Homo sapiens: one gene and its partners. The protein of the gene in region 5 purifies or fractionates together with the protein of the main gene of each other region. This does not show direct contact. Each region holds a gene or a part of one and is shown on either strand. Other genes may lie near its edges. The genes, in order: RBM25, RANBP2, NCAPD2, ANP32A, ZDHHC5, HSD17B4 and CSE1L.

Evidence for each region.
Region 1: the proteins of ZDHHC5 (region 5) and RBM25 purify together in Homo sapiens (co-immunoprecipitation; one large-scale study listed by IntAct). This does not show direct contact.
Region 2: the proteins of ZDHHC5 (region 5) and RANBP2 purify together in Homo sapiens (co-immunoprecipitation; one large-scale study listed by IntAct). This does not show direct contact.
Region 3: the proteins of ZDHHC5 (region 5) and NCAPD2 purify together in Homo sapiens (co-immunoprecipitation; one large-scale study listed by IntAct). This does not show direct contact.
Region 4: the proteins of ZDHHC5 (region 5) and ANP32A purify together in Homo sapiens (co-immunoprecipitation; one large-scale study listed by IntAct). This does not show direct contact.
Region 6: the proteins of ZDHHC5 (region 5) and HSD17B4 purify together in Homo sapiens (co-immunoprecipitation; one large-scale study listed by IntAct). This does not show direct contact.
Region 7: the proteins of ZDHHC5 (region 5) and CSE1L purify together in Homo sapiens (co-immunoprecipitation; one large-scale study listed by IntAct). This does not show direct contact.

The regions. Positions count from the first base shown.
Region 1 is NC_000014.9:73,120,967-73,124,399, reverse strand, and holds the end of RBM25 (RNA-binding protein 25), read right to left. Parts: 3' UTR 501-3,433; downstream 1-500. UniProt on the Homo sapiens protein: RNA-binding protein that acts as a regulator of alternative pre-mRNA splicing. Involved in apoptotic cell death through the regulation of the apoptotic factor BCL2L1 isoform expression.
Region 2 is NC_000002.12:108,767,982-108,771,481, forward strand, and holds part of RANBP2 (E3 SUMO-protein ligase RanBP2), read left to right. Parts: coding exon 1-407; intron 408-1,278; coding exon of another isoform or gene 1,279-1,356; intron 1,357-3,500. UniProt on the Homo sapiens protein: E3 SUMO-protein ligase which facilitates SUMO1 and SUMO2 conjugation by UBE2I. Involved in transport factor (Ran-GTP, karyopherin)-mediated protein import via the F-G repeat-containing domain which acts as a docking site for substrates.
Region 3 is NC_000012.12:6,514,602-6,518,101, forward strand, and holds part of NCAPD2 (condensin complex subunit 1), read left to right. Parts: intron 1-171; coding exon 172-319; intron 320-2,226; coding exon 2,227-2,424; intron 2,425-2,763; coding exon 2,764-2,898; intron 2,899-2,994; coding exon 2,995-3,082; intron 3,083-3,177; coding exon 3,178-3,358; intron 3,359-3,500. UniProt on the Homo sapiens protein: Regulatory subunit of the condensin complex, a complex required for conversion of interphase chromatin into mitotic-like condense chromosomes.
Region 4 is NC_000015.10:68,814,396-68,817,895, forward strand, and holds part of ANP32A (acidic leucine-rich nuclear phosphoprotein 32 family member A), read right to left. Parts: intron 1-3,500. UniProt on the Homo sapiens protein: Multifunctional protein that is involved in the regulation of many processes including tumor suppression, apoptosis, cell cycle progression or transcription. Promotes apoptosis by favouring the activation of caspase-9/CASP9 and allowing apoptosome formation.
Region 5 is NC_000011.10:57,692,114-57,695,613, reverse strand, and holds part of ZDHHC5 (palmitoyltransferase ZDHHC5), read right to left. Parts: intron 3,004-3,500; coding exon 2,912-3,003; intron 1,832-2,911; coding exon 1,699-1,831; intron 1-1,698. UniProt on the Homo sapiens protein: Palmitoyltransferase that catalyzes the addition of palmitate onto various protein substrates such as CTNND2, CD36, GSDMD, NLRP3, NOD1, NOD2, STAT3 and S1PR1 thus plays a role in various biological processes including cell adhesion, inflammation, fatty acid uptake, bacterial sensing or cardiac functions.
Region 6 is NC_000005.10:119,528,997-119,532,496, reverse strand, and holds part of HSD17B4 (peroxisomal multifunctional enzyme type 2), read right to left. Parts: intron 2,604-3,500; coding exon 2,517-2,603; intron 1,232-2,516; coding exon 1,093-1,231; intron 1-1,092. UniProt on the Homo sapiens protein: Bifunctional enzyme acting on the peroxisomal fatty acid beta-oxidation pathway.
Region 7 is NC_000020.11:49,049,312-49,052,811, reverse strand, and holds part of CSE1L (exportin-2), read right to left. Parts: intron 1-3,500. UniProt on the Homo sapiens protein: Export receptor for importin-alpha. Mediates importin-alpha re-export from the nucleus to the cytoplasm after import substrates (cargos) have been released into the nucleoplasm.

The DNA of each region.
Region 1 (3,433 bases), on a different chromosome or scaffold from region 5:
GCAGACCCTATCTCAAACAAACAAACAGAAAGATTTCACGTGAATGCATGTAAAACTACTTGTCATTAGTGGTTATTTAATAGTGCAATGCTAGACCATGAATTAGAACCCCATATATACTCCTCTAGATAAACCACCTGCAGGGACTACTGACATAATTACAATGGGCAAAACAGACTAGGTGACCTCTAAAGCCCCTTCCACATATTACTACTTCTACTGAGAATCTTCCTATTTCCCATTTCCTCTCAGCTTATCACATTTGATAATTCACATAGTATTTTGTATTTATGTCTAATGATGTTCCTGAACTCGTGTAATTTTTTTTGCCACCATTAGATGATCAGCTAACAGAAATACATGTATTTTTTTGAGATGGAGTTTTGCTCTTGTTGCTCACGCTGGAGTGCAGTGGCGCAATCTCGGCTCTCTGCAACCTCCACCTCCTGGGTTCAAGATGCTGTCTCAAAAAAAAAAAAAAAAGTAGACAGACTCAGGAGTGTCATTTAATTCAAACAACATGGCTTGAAAAGAATTTTTATTTTTGTTTCTAGAAATTATCTTCTTTACCTGGGTATTTTAGACTGCCATTCTTTAATTTCGCCTTCATGACTCAAGTAATGAAATGCAAAGATTCTGTCAATTAAAAATGTAAGCATTCAAATGCAAATAAATTAACATAAATATTTCAGTATTTTACCATAATCACATTACAAAAAATCTATCAGTTTATCAAAAAGTGTAAGTTCACTTCGCTCTATAGTATGATTGTTATATTAGTAGCTCCTGGGTTTGGTATGTATCTCCCTGTTTTCTTCTTGACAGCTAGACTGTTTCTTTGCCTGCTTGGGATTCCTTCTCATACCCTTTTATCTCCAGTGACATTCACAAATCAATCCCTCATCATCTTTTGTTGAGCAAAACTATTTCTCAATTTCATACTTAACAGAAGACTGAAATACAACCCAGAGAAGTTTGTAATCAATTTGACATAAAACCTCTCAGCAGTCTTTTGGGTATAAATTGGGGATATCATAAAACCTGTTAAAAAGAGTTGGGAAAATAAGCCTCATCTAAACATTGTATACCTGCTTACACTTATTTGCATTAAATTTATTCCATTAAAAAGGAGAAAAAAAGATAGTGTCTAGTTCAAATTGGCTCTCAAGCTAAATGTTTTCTCAGTTTTTCTACTATATCTAGTATTCATGGCAGATTAATACCTGAAACAGCACGCTTCACAAAATAATCATTAGCTTACACTTACATAGTTTACAGGGAAATGCCATAATAAGATTCAGAATAAGTTACAACATAAAGTTATCTACAGAAAAAATTTTCAGGGCTGGATGGAAAAAAAGCCTAGAATATTAGGGCTTTCTCAGACATAATTTTGCAAGATTACATTACGTTCATGAGTTACGTGTATTTGCCTCAAAAAATGTTTTTCTCTTTAAAATCTACTTAAAGGAAAATTCAGCTGCATTTATGTAGTCTGTTAGGATAAAATAATACTGAATAGACACCTTAAAGTGCTAATCAAAATGTAGTCTTGGATCAGTTGGCAATGACATTAGCTGGGAGCTGTCCAGAAATGCAAAGCCTGCGGCGCCACCCCAGCGCTGCTACTTCAGTGTCTCTATTTCTACAAGCACTCCTCAGATGATTTGGGGTCACATTAAAGTTTAAGAAAAACAACTTCAAACTTACCTTTCTTCCTTGTGAACAGATGTACATACTTTATTTTTAGGGACAAATAAAGAAAAGTAGTATTCTACTACTTTTTTGCCAGATCAAGACTGGTTCTTAAGATGTTCACGCTTTGGCCAGGCAAGGTGGCTCACGCCTGTAATACCAGCACTTTGGGAGGCTGAGGCGGGTGGATCACCTGAGGTCAGGAGTTTGAGACCAGCCTGGCCAACAAGGTGAAATCCTGTCTCTACTAAAAATACAAAAAATTAGCCAGGTGTCGTGGTGGGCACCTGTAATCCCAGCTACTCAGAAAACTGAAGCAGAATATCTCCAGAACCCGGGAGGCGGAAGTTGAAGTGAGCTGAGCTCGCGCCATTGCACTCCATCCTGGGCGACAAAAGCACAACTTCCTCTCAAAAAAAAAAAAACCCCAAAAAAACAACAAAAAAAGACTTTCATGCTCTTTATATAACAACTTGAAATGGCAAAATGAATTCATACTGTATAAGGTTTTCAAACTAAAATTAATTTATGAGATTATGGTAAAATTAACCCACAAAGTTCAAGCAACTTAATAGAAATTTCTTATGTGTATTTTCAGACACTAGAATATGCCTGTTTAATGTCTAATTCTTTATATATACAATTCTAAAAATCAACCAACTCTGACAATCTAAAGCCTTTTACTGAAGCTTGGTTACAAAACATGATTTAAACTGGCATTAAGCGATTAACAGTTTCTACCACATTTACTGTAACAATTTTCACTCTGCTGCAGAAACTTTAATATATGAACTTGCACAAATTCATATATTTAGTTGAGGTCCTGTCACAAACCTCACTGGAGATGTTATGCAGTACAGAGTACATCTCCCCAAAGGTTTCAGATTACGACATCTCCCTTGTTTTTAGAGTGGCCCTTTAAGATAAGTACAGTTGACAGAGCAGGAGAAGAAACGAAGCAAAGGAAATCAAATCTACCTGAATAAACCTTCATGTTAATAGTGGCTAAATAAAAACAACACAATATGATGCTTAAGAACAGTGCAGTATGTTAAGAAAAGACAGACACAATAAACTCCTCGAACAAGGTCTTAGGCTGGGGGTGTGTCTAAGAAAAGACTGAAAAATTAACGAAAATGGCAAGGGGCATCTTTTCTGAAATTTTCCGTTGAGAAACCAGAATTTAAAATAAAAGAGACATTTCCATAGATGTATAGTAGATTCATCCAAAATAATGTAAATGGCTTCCTTGACCTTTAGATACCAATAGTCATAAAAATCAAGTCCATAAAAAGTTCAGCCCATATTTTTAACTTTTCTAGTATGCACCACACAATTACAACATGATGCCATTTATTTACATGATTCTGAAAGAATATGAGTCCCCAGGATCAAATATATACATTTTTAATATTTGAAATATTTACATAATGGAACCACATCAGGGTTCGAGGGTAAGAACAGTGTTTTCAAATGTCCTCTCCAGGTGTGTTTAAAAAAAAAAAAAATCCAGTAATCCAAAGCTCACATTATGCTTTTTCTAACAGGCCAATCTTTACCTTTCTTTTAAATAAGTACTCAGACATGGGAACAGTTGCATCTAATTTGTGTGAAAAGCTGTTTAAAACTTCTTACGTTTTCAGGTAATTTTACTCCCTGGTGAAATTCTGATCTACAACGAAGAAAGCCCCAGGAATTTCTCTAAGCACATCATCAGTACATTTTTAAACACTAATGA
Region 2 (3,500 bases), on a different chromosome or scaffold from region 5:
TGTTATTCAGGGTGATGATGTAGCAGATGCAACTTCAGAAGTTGAAGTGTCTAGCACATCTGAAACAACACCAAAAGCAGTGGTTTCTCCTCCAAAGTTTGTATTTGGTTCAGAGTCTGTTAAAAGCATTTTTAGTAGTGAAAAATCAAAACCATTTGCATTCGGCAACAGTTCAGCCACTGGGTCTTTGTTTGGATTTAGTTTTAATGCACCTTTGAAAAGTAACAATAGTGAAACTAGTTCAGTAGCCCAGAGTGGATCTGAAAGCAAAGTGGAACCTAAAAAATGTGAACTGTCAAAGAACTCTGATATCGAACAGTCTTCAGATAGCAAAGTCAAAAATCTCTTTGCTTCCTTTCCAACGGAAGAATCTTCAATCAACTACACATTTAAAACACCAGAAAAGGGTAAGTACTTTGTTGTTAAAGTTAAGCACAATTTTTCTTTCTTTTAATGTTTAGCTTGATGCAGACTCTTTGTAGGATACTAATGTTGGGATATAAATGATGCTTTGTGAACACCCCCAAAATATTTGAGCAATTTTTTTTCTCCCTTAATAAGTTCACGGTGAGGTTTCAAAGAGCAAGAGAACTTAGTTTAAGACATTTCAGTAACTGGAAGATACTTTTATCATGCTAGGGCAGAGCAAAAGAACTCGGTACGGTATACGGACTCATGCTTGAATCATGCACATTAACGTGAGTCTTTTTTTAAAGTGTTCATTTTCATTTGTTCAGTTTCTTTTGTCACTCAGAAAACATGATATTGAGGCTGGGCACGGTGGCTCACTCCTAGAATGCCAGCACTTTGGGAGGTTGAGGTGGGCAGATCACTTGAGCTCAAGAGTTCGAGACCAGCCTGGCCAGCATGGTGAAACCCTGTTTCTACTGAAAATACAAAAATGAGCCGGGCGTCGTGGTGCGTGCCTATAATTAGCAGCTACTTAGGAGGCTGAGGCAGGAGGATCACTTGAGCACAGGAGATGGAGGTAGCAGTGAGCTGAAATCATGCCACTGCACTCCAGCCTGACTGAGTGACTGAGACTTTGTCTCCAAAAAAAAAAAAACAACGTGATATTGAGATGTTCTCATTTTATATGTTGTATGTCAGTCTTGCTCATGTATTAAATGAGCAAAGAATGAAACTACAGGGATAAATGAATATGTAAGACAATCAGATTGGTGGTATAAATTGAGGGATTCTGGCTTTTTATGTTTTAAAAGCATATTCATTTTGTTTCCTAAAATGTTAAAAAACGAAATATTCTTTATTTTCTAGGATTTAATTTTAGCCTTTTTAAATCTAATCCCATGGCCTTTTGGACTAGCACCCCTTCCTCACAGCCTGAGAGCAAAGGTATAGAACTAGCATTCTCAGTATGAGATAACAGCAGTTTTTAGCAGCTGGGTAGCCCTTAGCAAAGTATTAATAACTGTGGCTGTATGAAATGAAGTACTTACCACTACAACATGCATGTTAAAGAATGCCAGTTTAAGCAAAGTACCTTTTGACTGGTGGCATGACACCCTTGTTGGTTTGTTTTTTAAAATGTACTGGGATGCTGATTTGTAATGTACTTCATTGCTCTGCTATTTCAGGTCTGCTCAATGAAGACCTATGTTTTATCTAATGTTTATGTTTAGCCACTAACGTCTGCCAGTATTCAAATGTAGTGGCAACGGCATGTATACAATATGGAAGAGTGTCCCTGTAGGGCTGTTCTTTTGTGCATGGTTTAGAAAAATGTTGTATTTGAAAATGGACCCCGTTTTTAACAGCCAGCATTCTACAGCTTGCATATTATATATGTTGCACCGATCAATTTTAGAAGTGTGGCTACTAGAGTGGAACAAGAAGTGGGATCTGTTGAAGGCCTTCAAGAACAGGTTAGGGAAGTGAAATCTCACCCTTAGTGACCAGTAACACATCTTAGCCATGCCAAACAAGTACAATGATAAAGTAGCAATCTCTGATTTTTTTTTTTAAGTATACCAGTTTTATTACTAGCTAAGGTAGCTCTTAATCTTTTATTTTTAAAGATACGGTCTTTGAGAAATGTGAAAAGTGTTAACTTAAAAGTGGATGTATACTTGCGTACAGTTTCTGTGAGCTCTAGGTTAGGAATCCCTGACCTAAGAATGAATGTGCCTATATACTACTGTAGAACATAGAGCCTTATTTTGTTTTGAATCTGATAATGTCATTGTCCCAAGGGACCTTAGAAATGAAGACTTTAGACATGAGTAAACTGAGGCCAAGAGAGGCTATCTGATTTACCCAAGGTGTCTTTACTGAGTAATAGCAGAAGTGGAACAAGAATCTGTATCTTACGGTGTACTGTTATTTCTCCTAGCTAGAAAATGATACTAAGTTTTTGTTTATAATGAAGGAGAGGGACAAATTTAACATTGTAAAAGGAAGGGCACTGGTTCTGCAGAGCAGTGTCATCCAGTAGAAATAAAATATAACCTGTGTATGTAATTTAAAATTGTCATTTGGTGCAATGGCTTGTGCCTATAATCCCAGTTACTTGGGAGGCTGAGGCAGAGGGATCACTTGAGCCCACAAGTTCCAGGCTTTAGTGAACTGTGATCACATCACTGCACTCCAGCTCTGGGTGACAAAGCAAGACTGCATCTCAAATAAATAAATAAATAAATAAATTTTCTAGTAGCCATATTAAAAAGAATAAAAAGAAACAGTTAAAAAGGGAAACAGATGAAAGTAACTTTATTGATAGATTTGATTTAACTTATGTCCAAAATATCATTTTAACTTCTAATTAATATAAAAATTAATGATATTTTACATTATTGTTTTTCACCAAGTCTTCAAAATCCAGTGTGTGTGTTTACACTTACTGTTAGCACGTCTTGATTTGGACTAGCCACCTTGTGAGGTTTTAATAGAATGTGGCTAGGCTACCATATTGGACACCATAGCTCTCAGAATGTTTCCCTATCACTAGTTGGTATACATGGCATGCTTCATGACTGGCTTGCTTTATTAAACTCCTTTAGCCAGAAGTTCAGAACAGGTTGCATATAGAAGTTTTTTCTCTTTCTAATTTTTTGCCCTTTGCATTGATGGTGGCTGGGGATGGGTTGTTTTTAGCCATATGAATGGTCTTAGATTTTATAGTGTTAGCTACCTATAGAGTCACAGTTGTTATTTAATTTTACTTAGTATCATGCTTGAACATAGGCAAACTAGATGCAACTCTAGTCACCTTCCATTCTTGGCAATTGTTAACTTTCCTTACAGAAACTAATCACAGTTGGCTTTGGATTAGTTTCATATGTATAGTAATACTTGCCTATGTTTTAAGATTTTTTTCAATTGCTGCAAATGCATGGATATTTTGGTAAACTATTGTATGCTAAGTATAGTTAGGCAACACTTTAAAATTTTTAACCTTTATAAATTCTAGAAATTTATAGTAATTCTTTTCAATGACTATTAAGTAAACACAAATTTTTTTTTGTTTTCTTTGGTTTTAA
Region 3 (3,500 bases), on a different chromosome or scaffold from region 5:
TCGAAGTTTCTCATGCTTATTTTCCTTGGGGAGGGAATAAAGAAAGATTGGAAATACATTATCTGTGCAACAGTAGATTCCTTCAGATATTAGATACCTGTCTTACCTTCCCTTACTGGGAACTGAATAATTGATCTATGTTGCTATGGCTGTGTTTTCTTCCCTGTGTAGAGAGATTGGACAAAAGTGTCCCCAAGAGCTGAGTCGAGACCCTTCAGGGACAAAGGGCTTTGCAGCATTCCTGACAGAACTAGCAGAACGTGTCCCAGCTATCCTGATGTCCAGCATGTGCATTTTGCTAGATCACCTGGATGGAGAAGTAGGTGGTCCACTAGGGGTCACTGAGCTTTTTCTGGGGATTTTAAGTCCAGTGTTGAAAGGCTGTTTCTTAACAGAACAAGAAAGTAGCTTTGACAAGTTGTCTAGATTTATCATTGTGACATTTCCTTTCTGTAGAGAAGCAGGTCAAGTTTGTTGAATAAGGAGCTCTTTATTAATCTGTTAATCTTTCAATTCACATTGCTTTTATCCAGTTCTGGTAAGGGAGATGACATTTCTGCAGCTTAAGTCTAGTAAGAGCAACTCAGCTTTGATTTTTTTTTTTTCTTGGAGGTAGGATCTGGCTCTGTCACCCATGCTGGAGCATGATCATAGCTCATTGCAGCCTCGATCTCCTGGGCTCAAGCAATCCTCCCACCTCAGCCTCCCAAGTAGCTGGGACTTCAGGCACATACTACCATGCCTGGCTAATTTTTTTAGTTTTTGTAGAGGTGGGGTCTTGCCATATTGCCCAGGCTAGTCTCAAACTCCTGGTCTCAAGCAACCCTCCTGCCTCAGCCTCCCAAAGTGCTGGGATTGCAGGCGCTACCATGCTTAGCCTTCAGCTTTGATTCTGAGTCCCATCTGTTCCTCAGGATAAAGCGTCTTCCCACCAGCTGGCTTGCCTTGCTTCCTCAAACAATGAACTTTCTCAAATCAACCCATGTCATCTCTCTCAATTCTCTTTTATGCCTGAATGCTAACCTGGCTGATTCCCATACTGATGTTGGGCACTCCTAGGTGAATGTCAAGGACAAAGACAGTCCACTTGTTCATCTCATTTACTTTAACTTTTTGTGCAAGACCCTATTCTCTGGTTCTTAGCCTGGCAAAACCTTAACCCTGCTCTCCACTAGATTATGTATTGGACTTGCTGGCACTCTTAAGGCTGATTTCCATGTTTCTGTCTCATTTTCTGTCAGTAAAGCATCTGAAGGAGAGTGGGAGGGAAAGGAGGGGATATTTATTAGTAAGGATTAAAGACTTTGAGGCCAGGTGTGGTGGCTCACGCCTGTAATCCCAGCACTTTGGGAGGCTGAGGTGAGTGGATCACTTGAGGTCAAGAGTTTAAGACTAGCCTGGCCAACATGGTGAAATCCCATCTCTACTAAAAATACAAAAAAAAATTAGCTGGGTGTGGTGGCGCGCACCTGTAATCCTAGCTACTCGGGAGGCTGAAGTGGGAGGGTTGCTTGAACCTGGGAAATGGAGGTTACAGTGAGCCGAGATCGCACCACTGCACTCCAACCTGGGTGACAAAACGAGACTCTGTCTCAAAAAAAAAACCAAAAAAAACCACACAGACGGGCGCGGTGGCTCACGCCTATAATCTCAGCACTTTGGGAGGCCGAGGAGGGTGGATCACGAGGTCAGGAGTTTGAGACCAGCCTGGCCAATATGGTGAAATCCTGTCTCTACTAAAAATACAAAAATTAGCTGGGTGTGGTGGCGGGCACCTGTAATCCCAGCTGCTTGGGAGGCTGAGGCAGGAGAATCACTTGAACCCGGGAGTCAGAGGTTGCAGTGAGCCGAGATGGCGCCACAGCACTCCAGCCTGGGCAACAGAGCAAGACTCCGTCTCAAAAACAAACAAACAACCACAATAACAAAGGCTTTGAGACCTCAGCTGAAGGGTAGTTAATAAATGCTTTTCAAATGTGTGTTGGTGAGTGGATGTGATTTTTTTATTCAGCTACTACCATGCTTTCCTGTGTGAGCCCTATGAGGAAAAATTGGTTTTGGCCCTTGTTCTAGCATTCTCTGAGCAACAAGTCCTCTTTGGGATTCAGCTTTCTCCTGTGACCTTGGGAGTGAATACCTAGGCAGTTAATGGAAAAAGTTATGGCCAAGCACAAGCAAGCTTCGCCTTGACTAAAGGTTTGACCCCTCTATGCTTCTCTCTCTTAGAATTACATGATGCGTAATGCTGTGCTGGCAGCCATGGCGGAGATGGTGCTGCAGGTTCTCAGTGGCGATCAACTGGAAGCAGCAGCCCGAGACACCAGAGACCAGTTCTTGGATACTTTACAAGCCCATGGCCATGATGTCAACTCCTTTGTGCGGAGCCGTGTTTTGCAGCTCTTCACCCGAATTGTCCAGCAGAAGGTAACCAACTTCTATGTGGCAAAAACATATGGTACCTCTCCATATACCAGTGTAAAGAGGAATCCAGTGTTGAAGATAAATATCTGCCCCAAAGAGGTCTAGAATTCACATTTTTATTATCAGTAGTAAAAGTCTTCCTCTACCAAGGACGAGGATATCTGGCTCCCTTTAAGGACTGTAATGTGTCTTACCACTACAAGGAGTACTCCTAATCTATATTCTGTAGAAAGGGTTTTTAGAGTGAGTGGGTAGCTCAGTTTAGAGTATACTTAAAGATCATCTTGAACAAAATGGATGATGTGGGACTTGAGCAGATTCTTCTCTTCCTACCCTACACAGGCTCTCCCCCTGACACGTTTCCAGGCAGTGGTGGCTTTAGCTGTGGGACGTCTGGCAGACAAGTCAGTGCTAGTATGTAAAAATGCCATCCAGCTGCTGGCCAGTTTTCTAGCCAATAATCCTTTCTCCTGCAAGGTAAGTAGACTTGGTCCACCAAAAGAGAAGGAATTAAATGGAAACAGGGATGAAATTATGTCATTTACTGACCCTGCTATTCATTTTACCTGATAGCTTAGTGATGCTGACCTTGCCGGACCACTGCAGAAGGAGACCCAGAAATTACAAGAGATGAGGGCCCAGAGGCGAACTGCAGCAGCTTGTAAGTAGTTACTGCCTTGGAGTCCTAATGCCAGACAGGCTTCTCCTTGCAGTCAGAAACTCTAGTGAAAGAGACTAAGTGACACTCTCATTTAGCTGCAGTGCTGGACCCAGAGGAGGAGTGGGAAGCCATGCTGCCAGAGTTGAAGTCTACCCTGCAGCAGCTTCTACAGCTTCCCCAGGGAGAGGAGGAGATTCCTGAGCAAATTGCCAATACAGAGACAACTGAAGATGTGAAAGGACGCATCTATCAACTGCTTGCCAAAGCTAGTTACAAGTAGGCAAAAGAATGGGATATTCTTCGTGATCTGTTTATGTTTAGAGTTAACCTTTGAGAAACTTACATAATGTGTCTTTTAAATTAACTGCACACAGATATGCTGCCACCAGGTGATGGTAGATGTTTTCATGTAGTAATG
Region 4 (3,500 bases), on a different chromosome or scaffold from region 5:
CAAAAATTATAAAATAAATAAATAAAAAAGGAAACAAGTCTCATACTGCTATGGGGAAAGAAAAAAAAAAAGAAAGATGGCCAACTGTGTAAGTCTAGAGTAAGCCACCTTGAGAGGCTGGTGGTGCAGCAGCAGCAGGAAAGAGGGAATTGGGGCTGTGGTGTGCTGTCATAACACAGGCTGCTGTTATGGGGACTAGGATTTGTCCCCTTGAATTTATCTCCTCCTCCCCTTGACCTGGCCAATTTTATAACCATTCCTTCCGTTCATTAGCTCAGGCACAAGACGCTAGAGGGAAAAACTTCTGAAACTCAAAGCCACTATGCTGCTGGTTCATTCCCCAGGAAACACGCATGGTAGAAAAGCAGCAGGCCAAAAACTAGAGATTCCAGGATTATCTGTCATTTTCAAAGATCTGGGCTCTGAAAGGCTGATGTGAGCCACTGGGTGCACAGCTGCCCCGCCTTTGGTTCAAGCCTCAAAGCTCTAACCGTTGCAACCCAAAGCTCTTTCTATCTCTGAGATGACATCTAGAACCTAAGAGTGACCATTCAACTACAAGATACACAGAAGGCTTTGACATGTTCTGAGTACACAACGAAGAATTTCAGCTGGCTATACAGAACTCTAGACGAGAAGTGCTTCATACTAAACCAGTAACAAGGATAATTTCTCTTCCTATGGAGGTTCCTGGGTTGAGGCTGATTTCCACTAGGCACCAATTACTTACAGGGCACAGAACACATAAAAGGACTTAAAAAGACCCTGAGAGTACCACCCAAATATATGGCTTGCCATTTGCTTAAACAAAGCAAAACACTAGATCCCTGGGGCCCACCCTCCAATCTACTGAACCACCTTTTCAGCAAACCTCTTCTGCAAAGGGGGCAGATAGTAAACTTTATCAAGAGCCAAAATTAAGAACACTACATAGGGACTTTTATAACAAGAGAAAAATCTAACACATTTCCACAATTCTTTTATTGATAAAGTTCAGAATATATTGAGTACAATTTTTTTTTTGTAACGAGATCTGTTAACGAGACAAGTGGATTTCTTATTTTTTGGGAGAATAACATTTCAAGTCATTGGGATTCAAAGAGTGTTCCATACCATCAAATTGACTGCAACGTTTATATGTACAAATAATTCTTAGCTCATGACTGTACAAAAATTGGGAGCTCAGTTATAGTTTGGTGATTGCTGTGGTACTCCTGTGATTGGGGTGGAGCCCAGGAATCTGCATTTTACATGCCTCTCACGTGATTCTGGTAATGGGCCATGGACCCAATGGACTATCCAATCCTCGGAATCTCTGTCCACCAAAGGGGCCTGTGGTTTTGCAGTGCGAGAACCCGGCTGTGCCACCTACCAGTTGCTCAACCTCTCCAAAAATCAGATGATTCATCCTCACAACAGGGGTGGCATTGCACTGCTTGGCCTACCCTTAAAGAGTTGCTGGGATGATTAAGTGAGATGATCCATGAGGTGCTATGAGCATACTATGTCCCAGATACTAAAGACATGCCAGTTATGTTGAGTTTTTTTGGCTGCAGATGCAGACTGCCTGAGCAGCTCCTGCTTGTCTTCTCCTTACTCAAAATGTGTCCCCCAGCACCTTGAAGGCCAGATCCACTTCAACCTAACCCACTGTGATGTGCTAAAGCAAACTCAGTGCAAGGCTTCATAAAATGATAATCCACAGCCCCTGGTCCTGAACCTCCTGGCCCTCTAATATCTCCAACCAGGATGCTATCCACTCTTCATTTCAGCGTCTTCAATAATAGAAAACTCATTCTCTTTCTACGGTGGCACCACTCCAAAGCTGGAGAAGAAAAAGCTCTTCCTTACAGTATCTTAAGAAAAAAAGGGTGTTTCAAAGGAGGCAGTAGAGTGTAGAGGTTGAGTATGCAGACTGGCTGAGTTTGAATCCTGGTTCTGCCACTCACTGGTCACATGATAACCCCTGTATGCCTCAATTTCCATATGCACAATGACGATGATAATAATAATACCTACCTCATAGTGCTGTTGTGGGGACTAAATTAGTTGATACATGTAATCCACTTAAGAAATGTGCCAGACACAGCGTGGTTGCTATGTAAGCACTAGCTAATATTGTTATTATCCTAAACCATGGAGGAGCTCAAAGTAATGCCTGGAAGCACCCTGATATGTCTCCGAGACTAAAACTGTCATATAGACAGCATATACTGAGGGCCATATCAAACCAATTTTGTCATCATTTACTGATTAAATAGGATTATTCCGTTTTACAGGTGAAGAAACAAAGCTTCAAAAAGGTAGGTTAAGCTCACCAGCCCAAGGTCACAAGGGCAGGTAAACGTATCCTACCTCCTTGTGGCAGGAGGAATTCAAACCCAGGTCTGTGTAATTCCTAAGCCCATCTTCATCATGGAGCCCCTCAGACTCGAAACTACTATCAGCAGCAGAACTCAACTGACTATGACCACAGGGGAACTCAGGCTCAATTTTCTGCCTGCGAGTTCCTGGTTGGCTTGCATAAACTGTAGTTAATATCATGCTACTTGAACCCAATTAGGCAGTAAGTCAGCCTGGAAAACATCATGCGATGTATTCCAAAGGTCAAAGTAAAAGCTGGCTTCCAAGGCAGCCTCTGCTGGACACTGCCATGAAAGTTAGTTTCTGCACAGATACCAGAGTTCAGCTCGTGAGGTGCTTAACCAGCACCTATATCGGCTTTTTAAAATTCTCAGAGATGCCAGCATCGGAGGACCCGACGCGACGAATTGCCTGGCTCCTAAGTCAACATCCGGAGAAAGGCGGTTTACTTTTTTCAAAAGCAAACCTTCATCCCTCTCTTTCGCTTTAGGATCTCATTACTATTGTAGCTGCCTTCTCCCAGGCAAAAATAAAAGGGGGAAGGAGCAGGTTTAGACCGAGGAGGAGGGTTCCCCTAGCCTGCAGGGCGCTGCAACATCCACCTGAAACACGGAGCTCGACCTACCTTCCCGGAGAGCCCAGCCCGGGAGGGCGTTTCCCCAACGGATCGACAACTCTTCCCTCCCGGGGAACAGGCTGCTGTCCTTGGCTTCAGTCAGGGCCACTAGAGTCGCGTGCGCGACACCCCTCACCCCCGCCAAAAGAACCTCATGTTTAATGTTCCCCTTACTCTATCACTTCCGCCGAAAGAGCAAACACCAGAGCGATCGGTTAGTCCTTAAGGCCACATTTAACTACGTCTGAGCGCCTGCAGGAGGAACGGCGAAACCCCGGAGAGGAGGCGGGGGAGGCAGGGAGCGCGTGGGGGGGGGCATTTGCACAGAGGATCGTCGTCCTCCCGGCGCCGCGGCCGCCGTGACTCTCCAGCACAGCCTCAGGCCGTTGGCGCGGGGCGGAAACCCCCATCGGGGCTCATAGCACAACTGGGGGTCCCCAAAGCCGGCTCCCCCTGCCTCCTCCGCGCGGGAGGCCGTCGGGGTGATGGCGCAAGACTCCGCTCCCCCCGCCCCCCACAG
Region 5 (3,500 bases):
GTCTCGCCATGTTGCCCAAGCTGGTCTTGAACCCCTGGCCTCAAGCAATATCACCCCACCTTGGCCACCCTAAATGTTGGGATTATAGACATGAGCCACTGCCTATCATATATTTCTCAACTATACTGGAAGACAAGGCACAAGAATCAGTTTGGGTATAGCATTAGATGAAGAAAAGTTGGGTTTTTTTTTTTGAAATGGAGTCTTGCTCAGTCACCCAGGCTGGAGTGCAGTGGCGTGATCACGGCTCATTGCAACCTCTGGCTCGCAGGTTCAAGCGATTCTCATGCCTCAGCCTCCCAAGCAGCTAGGATTACAGGCATGTGCCACCACACCTGGCTAATTTTTTTTTGAGATGGAGTTTCGGTCTTGTTGCCCAGGCGGAGTGCAATGGCATGATCTCGGCTCACTGCAACCTCCGCCTCCCGGGTTCAAGCAATTCTCCTACCTCAGCCTCCCAAGTAGCTAGGACTACAGGCATGCGCCACCATGCCCAGCTAATTTTGTATTTTTAATAGAGACAGGGTGTCTCCATGTTGGTCAGGCTGGTCTCGAGCTCCCAACCTCAGGTGATCCACCCACCTCAGCCTCCCAAAGTGTTGGGATTACAGGCATAAGCCACTACGCCCAGCCAGAAAATTTTTCTATTTTTTATTTTAGTCTGTTTTAGAGATGGAGTCTCGCTATGTTGTCCAGGCTGGTCTTGAGCTCCTGAACTCAAGCGATCTTCCCACCTCAGCCTCGCTAAGTGCTGGGATTATAGGCATGAGTTACTGTACCTGGCAGAAGAAAGGGTTTAAAAAAGGTTTTAATTCTGTCACTTATTTGCCCATTTAAACCAACAACTACTTGTTTAGCTCCTACCATCTAGCTGTAAGCTGTTAAGTCCTATGAAGACATGGAAATGAATGAATTCATTTTCTATTGTTAATGAACTTAAAGTCTAATGTAGGGCCGGGTGCAGTGGCTCACACCTATAATCCTAGCATTTTGGGAGGCTGAGGGGGTTGGATCACTTCAGGTCAGGAGTTTGAGACCAGCCTAGCCAACATAGGAAAACCCTGCCTCTACTGAAAATAAAAAAATTAGCCAGGCGTGGTGGCGCATGCCTGTAGTCCCAGCTACCCAGGTGGCTGAGGCACGAGAATCGCTTGAACCTGGGAGGCAGAGGTTGCAGTGAGCTGAGATCATACCACTGGAGTCCAGCCTAGGTAACAGAGCAAGACTCCCTCTCAAAAAAAAAAATCTAATGTAGAAAACAAGATTTGTATTTAAGTAATTTTAACCCAAATTAGTAAGTGATAAACACTGTAAGAAATATGGGCCAGGCGTGGTGGCTCATGCTTGTAATCCTAGCACTTTGGGAGGCCGAGGTGGGCAGATCACCTGAGGTCAGAAGTTCGAGACCAGCCTGGCCAACATGGCAAAACCCCATCTCTACTAAAAATACAAAAATTAGCCAGGCAAGGTGACGGACACCTGTAATCCCAGCTACTCGGGAGGCTGAGGCAGGAGAATTGCTTGAACCTGGGAGGCAGAGTTTGCACTGAGCACCACTGCACTCCAGCCTGGGCAACAGAGCAAGACTCTGTCTCAAAAAAAAAAAAAAAAACACAAAGGAAACTAAAGCAAGCTTCCGTCTCTTTGCCTTGGGTGAGACTTCCATGTTATCTAGCTTGACTTCTCTAAATTCCTCACCTTTGTTCTCCTCAGCTCTCCCTGGATGCCATTATCCATGATCTTCACAGTTATCTGCCCATCTGAAACTTCTGGTCGAAGGAAGGGAGGTCTGATTACAATTGTCTTCTCTTTCTTTGGTCTCCCCAAATACCTAAGTGTCGAGAGAGAGAGAGAGAGAGACACAGCGAGAGAGCTTTCATTCATTTATATTTTAAAGTATCTACTGTTTCTGTAAACCATTTTTATTAGGTTGGTAAAAAAGTAATTGCAGTTTTGGCCATCACTTACTTAGCAATAAACAGAATTGATTCTGTGAAGGACTGCAGCAGGACTAGGCCTTTGTGAGCAGATACCTAGCTCAAGGAAAGCACTTTAGAGTGTATCTTATTCACCCTCAATTCTCAAAGATTTACCTTAATACCTGAAGAATATCAATGGAATTCACAGTGTCCACTAAAGCAGGGGTCCCCAACCCCTGGGCCGCAGACCAGTACCGGTTCATGGCCTGTTAGGAACTGGGCCACATAGCAGGAGGTAAGCAGTGGGCCAGTGAGCATTATCACCTGAGCTCCATCTCCTGTCAGATCAGCGGAGGCATTAGATTCTCTTAGGAGCGCAAACCCTAGAACCCTGTTGTAAACTACACATGCAAGCAATCTAGGTTGTATGTGTGCTCTGAGCTCACTGCAACCTCTGCCTCCTGGGTTCAGGCAATTATCCTGCCTCAGCCTCCCAAGTAGCTGGGATTACAGGTGCCTGCCACCTTGCCCAGCTAATTTTTGTATTTTGAGTAGAGAAGGGGTTTCACCATATTGGCCAGGCTGGACTTGAACTTCTGACCTCAAGTGATTCGCCCACCTCGGCCTCCCAAAGTGCTGGGTGTGAGCCGCCACACCCAGCCATGAGAATCTAATGCCTCATGATCTGAGGTGGAACAGTTTCATCCTGAAACCACCCCACCCCAGCCCCCATCTGTGGAAAAAGTGTCTCCCATGAAACCGGTCCCTGCTGCCAAAAAGGTTAGGGACCACTGCACTAAAGGATGGGCATGTAGGTACTTACCATTCTAAGATAGACTACTTACCATTCTAAGATAGAGTGGGTACTTAACATTCTAAGATAGAGAACCCTTCCTAAAGGCTCTCACCAGACCCCTCCTTTACCAGAACAAGCCCAAAGAAGATAAAAGTTCTGACCAATGGTAAACACTAGACCAGAGGGATAGGTGTACCTGGGTGCTGGAGAACTGCAGAGAACACGGCTGACATTGTTACAGCAGCCATTGGTGAAGGGGTTCACACCTCCCCGGAATTTACCCGTAACCTAGAGGGAGAAAAAAAATACCAGGTTAGAAGATGAGACCTTGACTTCCAAAGGCCAAAATACAAATCTATTACAAGTTATTGTGCACTCACTATCTGAGGGCTATGCAAATGAGTAAAACACAAGAAATTTATATATGTTATGGTTAAGAGCAGGGAATCTACAGTCAGGGTCCTTAGTTCAAATCCTAGGTCTACCTCATGGTTGCTGACCCAAAACCTCAGTTTCCTCATGTAAAATGGGATAGCTTTCTAAATATTGAAAACTAAGATAAAGAATAAGCAATTAAGGGCTGGGCATGGCAGCTCACACCTGTAATCCCAGCACTTTGGGAGGCTGAGGCAGGTGGATCACCTGAGGTCCGGAATTTGAGACCAAACTGGCCAACATGGCAAAACCCCATCTCTACTATAAAAATATATAAAAACTAGCCGGGCATGGTGTCAGGCACCTGCAATCCCAGCTACTTGGGTAGCTGAGGCAGGAGAATTGCTTGA
Region 6 (3,500 bases), on a different chromosome or scaffold from region 5:
TCAATTTCAGAACCTTTTTTTTAAAAGGCAGCCATACTATTTTCTAAAACTATGCTTTCTACATGGCTTTTAGCACTCATTCCAACATATACAGAATCAGGCTAGTTATTATGTGTTATTGACTATACTAGAAGCTAGAAATAGACAAACTGCAGCCATTTCTCAGGATTAAGCCCAAAGTCAAATGAGAGAAAACATACAATTATAAATGACCATAATACAGTAAGATAACTGTGACAAGCAACAGACTCTGCTGAAAGGGAATTCAGGGACTTACTGCTCTACCTCCTATCCATTTTCATCTTTTCAACCTAATTGAAGAATCTCTAGGAAAATAAAGGTGAGGTTAGAATATTCCATAATTAAAGTGTGTGCCATGATTAAGGATGTGAGTTACACAGCAGATGCAAAAGATCTGACAGAATATTTTTTCTTTATTCTTTTTATCCTCTAATTTCTCTTTCTTCACAAAATGGTACCAGGGTCTCTTTGGACCTCCACATCAGTGAAAAGAAATATGACTGCTTTCTTTCTGCGGCAAGATGTTTTATATTGGGTGCATGGCACTCTAATAGATAATTTCCCTAGATTAGATAAACAAACACCTTTGACCATAATCTGTATATATCTAGAAAATAGTGATTTTATATTGATAATTAAGATAATCCAAATTATTGTTTTGGTATGAATAAAATAATTTTGTAACTGTCAAATATCATGACTTAAAAATACTTCATTTTGACTTGATGAATTTGCCTTATGTTTAAGAAGCTGAAGATTAGATAAAGATGCATATAGCCAAGATGACTGTTTAAACTACTTTCAAGGATTACAATGAAATCTTAAAACAGGTTATTTTCATTTCAATTGATTCCCTACATCTCTTACACACACACACAAACACACACACACACACACACACACACACCCCCCTTTGGACATTCCCAAACCTATTCATTCCCACGGGAAAAGAAAAAAAACTTACCTAAAAAGGTAAGATTTACCTACCTTCAAAGGTCTTTAATTGTTAAAAAGATACTTTATTTACTAAGAATTACCTTAGAATATTATAAAATCAGGGCTATAACTTACTCCACTTAGCCCCAATATTTCCGCCTTTGGTTATATGCCACTCAAATACAGCATTTACTTTCTTCACCACCTCAGGCCCAATATCCTTTAGGCGGCGTCCTATTTCCTCAAATACAAAGGTACTCTGAAGCTTCCCGCCCTAACAACGACAACAAAATAAACTTTAAAAGTTCTGTAAAAATAACTCATGGAGAAAAGTGATTATAAAACATGTGCAAAAAAAAGATTTTTTAAAACTCTGTACATAAGTCAGTTTTCTTCATACAATGTGTCTTTCATACTTTCTTATTTGTATACATCACTCAGAACCTCAGTCCTCTTAATAACAGGATTTTACTTTTATTAGAATTCAGAAATAATATTTTAAAAGAAAAATAGGAACTGGACAACCTATGTTTTAGCTAACTTTAGAAAGATCCTGATCAAATTAATCAACTTCTATGGTCTCATTTTTTTTATTTATAAAATAATACTAAATTACATGAAGTCTGAATTTCTTTACAGCTCTAAAACTTAAGTTTTGGGTTTTTTTTGTTTTTTGTTTTTTTTTTTTTTTTTTGAGACAGACTTGTCGCCCAGGCTAGAATGCAGTAGTGCAATCTTGGCTCACTGCAACCTCCACCTCCCGGGTTCCCGTGATTCTCCTGCTTCAGCTTCTTGAGTAGCTGGGATTACAGGAGCCTGCCACCAAGGCTGGCTAATTTTTGTATTTTTAGTAGAGATGGAGTCTCACCATGTTGGCCAGGCTGGTCTTGAACTCCTGACCTCAAGTGACCTAACCACTTCAGCCTCCCAAAGGGCTGGGATTACAGGCGTGAGGCACCGAGCCCGCTCTAAGTTTTTTTTTTTCTTAGACTATTCTTAAGGGATTTTAATTTTCAGTCAGTTATATGGTTTATGACAGACAATTAAAGATCATGGGTATCGAAACCTCAACATTACAAAGTTAATATTTCAGAGATAGAATATAAACATTTTTATCAAAAGTCTCAGCATGCTAATAAATAATACAATGTTTTAATAAATTATACACGCTGCTGGTTTATATATTTGCATACAAAACTTTATATAAACCTTTAAATCAAGAAAAAGGTACAGGATATTCAACTTTTTAATCTATTTTTCTCCAAAACGCTGTTTGCTTAAGATTCTGATTAAACAACTGATTTATTTATTCTAAAACTAGAAAATTATGTTCTCTTGAAAGATATCCTAGTATCCTGCAAAACGAGTTTTTTAAAGTTCATAAATTGCCAGAGTATTCCTTCTATTCCAAGCTGTTTTGAATTAATGTTTTTCACTTCAAGAATTAAGAATAGTTTCATGGTTGTTAATTTTCTAACGTAGCCTAACCACTCTTAAAGTCACCTTAACTGAAATTCCTAAATGAGGAAGTGGCTTGGATACTAATTTTTATAACCTACCTCAGAGGGTGTCTTAGCTGAAGTACCAGATGTTGGTGCAAGATCCACATATGCATTTGAAATGACAATGTCTCCAGTTTCTTGGACCTTAGGAGGAGAAGAAAAAAAAAAGATTTATTCTGATTACAATGGAAGTGTAATTTCACTGTGAAACAGTACAAAGTTTAAAATTTATTATTTTTGCCTCATATGAAAAAGAATATAATAATCCAGATAAAATAAAAGGCTGCTAAAGTAAATGTCAAGATGAACAAACATAAAGGCTTTCTGATTTAATACAACTGTTACTAAACCTGGCTTTATAATCAGCTGGAGCCCTTTAAAACAAACAAACAAAGAAACCCTATGAGGTCCCATCCCCCAAAATTCTAATGTAAATACACTGATAGAGACTGGGCCTTGGTATTTTGGGCATTTTTTGGGGGGGAAGTGGGGATCAGGGGATGCACTCTTATAAACAGAATTCAGTCCATGCTGAATCCTTATAAATAGTAAAAGGCATAGCACAATAGCCACATGAGGTAATGGTACTCAAAGTACATTTGTTCTGCTAATATAGAATAAAATTGGCTAGGAACAAATCATAATAGTGTTTTTTAAGTAGTAATTCCAGGTCTTATTTCAAGAGGAAGTGTACACAGCATGAACTAAATGTCTAAATAGGCTTTTATCAAAATAGTCATTAAAGGAATTCAAATTCTAATTCCCAGTCCTTCATTTCAAATTATTCCAATGGCTATTCTTTCATAAAAATTGTTATTGCTACAAATGTATAGGATAAGTTTCTAAAGTTTAACATAGCGTTTATTAAAACTTTGATTTTTAACAATCAAGAAGATCATTCTCTTGACTACATCTCATCATATTTTGGAGGAAAAAAGATCTTTCAAGTAATTTGTTCACTTTACTTCAAATTACATACATTGAAAAGCATGGAAAGAGATAATTAATGAACAAAATGCACTTCAGTAAATTACTTTATTG
Region 7 (3,500 bases), on a different chromosome or scaffold from region 5:
TCAGACCAGCCTGGGCTAACACAGCAAGACCCTGTCTCTACTAAATATACAAAAAATTAGCCAGGTGTGGTGGCACACACCTGTAGATCCAGCAAATTGAGACTGCTGTGAGTTGTGATCAGGCCACTGCACTACAGACTGGGCAATGGGAGTGAGACCCTATCTCCAAAACAACCACCACCACCACCACCACCACCAAATCCCTTACCACAGCAGGGTCTAAGCAATCTGGTATCTACTGACCTCATCTCCTACCTCCTCCTGGCTCTTGCTACATTCCAGGCACAAAAGCCTTCTGTTCTACAAACTGGCCACAAGAGTTCTCCCTGACCATAATAATGCTCATCCTCTAATTTGATAATGGACACCATTCAGCACTCAGCCCACTGTCAACTCTTCAAAAAGGCCTTCTACGATTACCATCTACATCATCCTTGTTTTACTGTGTTAGCAATTACCCTCATTTGAAATAAACTTCTTTGTCGTCTCATACACACACTAGACTGCAAGCTCCTGAGGGCAGGGACTTTCGTCTGTATGCTCAGGACCTTCAGCATTACCTGGCACACAGTACATATTTAGTAAGCATTTGTTGTATGAACTAAAGGATAAGTCACAACATGTCAGTCACCCAGCAAAACATGAGTTTCCAGTCAAGACTGGAGACTATCCCTTCAGATCAATCATTAGCAGCCCCAACATAATGTGGGAACTCAGTTGCATGAATGTCAGATGAACAAATGACCAACTTAACTGCCACAATTAAATTTGTTTATTCAAAAGTACTTCAAGAAAGTGAATTTTTAGATTTGTTCTGGCCTGGCAGAATGGCTCATGCCTGTAATCCCAGCGCTTTGGAAGGCCGAGGCGGAAGGATCACTTGAGGCTAGGATTTCAAGACCAGCGTGGGCAACATAGTGAGACCCTGTCTCTACAATAAATAAAAATTAGCCAGGCATGGTGGCGAGCACTTGTAGTCTCAGCTGCTCTGGAGGCTGAGGCAGAAGGACTGGTTAAGCTCAGAATTTTAAGGCTGCAGTGAGCTATGATCATGCCATTGCATTCCAATCTGGGCAACAGAGTAAGACTCTGTCTCTGAAAAAAGATAAAATTTATCCTGTATTACCTGTTCAAACATGCCAGTGATTTTACTTTTGTTTCAGGGTTCTGTACTTACCATTCCTTCTGCCTGCAGAGCTCTGCACACGGAAAGCTACAAGGTTTGCACTGCCCACTTCATTCTCATTCAGGACTCTTGTTTTTTTTGGAGACAGGGGTCTTTGCTCTGTCACCCAGGCTGGAGTGCAGTGGCGTGATCTCAGCTCACCGCAGTCCCCGCCTCCCAGGTTCAAGCAATTCTCCTGCCTCAACCTCCCAAGTAGCTGGGACTACAGGTGCGTGCCACCACGCCCGGCTGAGTTTTATATACAGTAAAGATGCGGTTTCACCGTGTTGGCCAGGCTAATCTCAAACTCTTGACCTCAGGTGATCTGCCGCCTCAGCCTCCCAAAGTGCTGGGATTACAGGCATGAGCCACCGTGCCCGGCCTGGAAGGACTCTTTTCAAATGTCATCTTTTTTTCAGAGATGCCTTGCTGCACCATCCTATCTAAAAGAGCATTCACCTCAGTTACTCTCCATGCCCTTACTCTACTATTTTCCAAGTACATTTTATCAGGCATATTAATTTCTTTTGTCATTTACTGTGCTTCTCTCTTCACTAGATTGTAAACTCCACTGATAGTAGGGACTTTGTGCTTTGTTCACTGCTCTCTCCCTAGAGCCTTACAATAGTGATGAGCACCCGTTATATATTTGTTGTACTATTTTAAAAAGCTAGATACCTTTGATGTTTCCATCAAAAATATTATTCTTCATCTTTATTTTGGTTGGTTGACTGTGTCAAACAGAAAGAGGTGGACACAACCTTCTAGATTCTAAAACCACAACAGGCTGAGCAAGGTGGCTCACTTCTGTAATCCCAGCACTTTGGGAGGTGGAGATGGGACGATCACTTGACCCCAAGGACCGTTCAAGACCAGACTTGGCAACAATAGTGAGATCCTGTCTCTACAAAAAATTTTAAAAATTAGCTGGGCTCAGGCCGGGCGCGGTGGCTTACGTCTGTAATCCCAGCACTTTGGGAGGCCGAAGCAGGCGGATCATCTGAGGTCAGGAGTTCGAGACCAGCCTGACCAATGTGATGAAACCCCGTCTCTACTAAAAATACAAAAAAAAAAAAATTAGCCGGGCGTGGTGGCATGCGCCTGTAATCCCAGCTACTCAGGAGGCTGAGACAGGAGAATTGCTTGAACCCGGGAGGCAGAGGTTTCAATGAGCCAAGACTGCACCATTGCACTCTAGCTCTAGCCTGGGCAACAAAAGTGAAACTCCCATCTCAAAAAAAAAAAAAAAAAAAAAAAAAAATTAGCTGGGCTTGGTGATACCCTCCTGTGGTCCTAGCTACTAGGGAAGTTGAGGCAGGAGGATTGCTTGAGCCCGGGAGGTCTAGGCTGCAATAAGCTGAGGTCTTGCCACTGCAGTCCAGTATGGGTGACTGAGTGAAACCCTGTCTCCAAAAATAAAATAAAATAAAATAAAATAAAATAAAAATAAATAAATAAAACCACATAATAGAATGAAACCTAAAATGATTAAGTTGAGATGCTAGGGTAGGACTATTTTTAAGTTTAAAAAAAAGTGAGGGGTTATATAAATATGCATGTTATAATCCCTCAAAGTTAAAATACTACATAGATCCCAGAATCTTAATACTCTTTTTTGAGACAGGGTCTGGGTCTGTTACCTAGGCTGGAGAAATGCAGTGGTGTAATTCTGGCCCACTGAAACCTCTGCCTCCTGGGCTCAAGCCATCCTCCTACTTCAACCTCCCAAGTAGCTGGGACTACAGGCACACACCACCACACCTGGCTAATTTTTGTGTTGTTTCTGTAGACATGGTTCCAGTGTTGCCCAGGCTGGTCTGGAACTCCTGAGCTCAAGTGATCCGCCCACCTTGGCCTTCCAAAGTTTATTCTTTGGGAATATTCTTTAAGGAACTATTTGTCAACAAATCCTTTTTATATCGCCTTGCAGATATAGTCTATAAAACCGAATTCTAAGCTTATCCTTAATTTGAGAAAATAAGAGAAATCAGGGACTTTTAGAGAACATTTTACAGGTATTCATAATTATCAACAAGATCAAGCTCTAATTATCTTATGCAACCACAAGTAAAGGTACTTTGACACTCTGAAATATTAGCAATATATAAATGCAAAAAGTGTTACTGATCTAAAAATGACTCAAACTAGAAACAAAACATTCATTTTGGCCAAGTAGGGTGGCTCATGCCTGTAATCCCAGCTCTTTGGGGGGCCAAGGTAAGCAGATTGGTTGAGTCCAGGAGTTTGAGACCAACCTGGGCAACATGGTGCCATCTCTACAAAAAAAAAATAAAAATTAGTTGAGTGTGGTGGTGCACGCCTGTAGTCCTAGCTA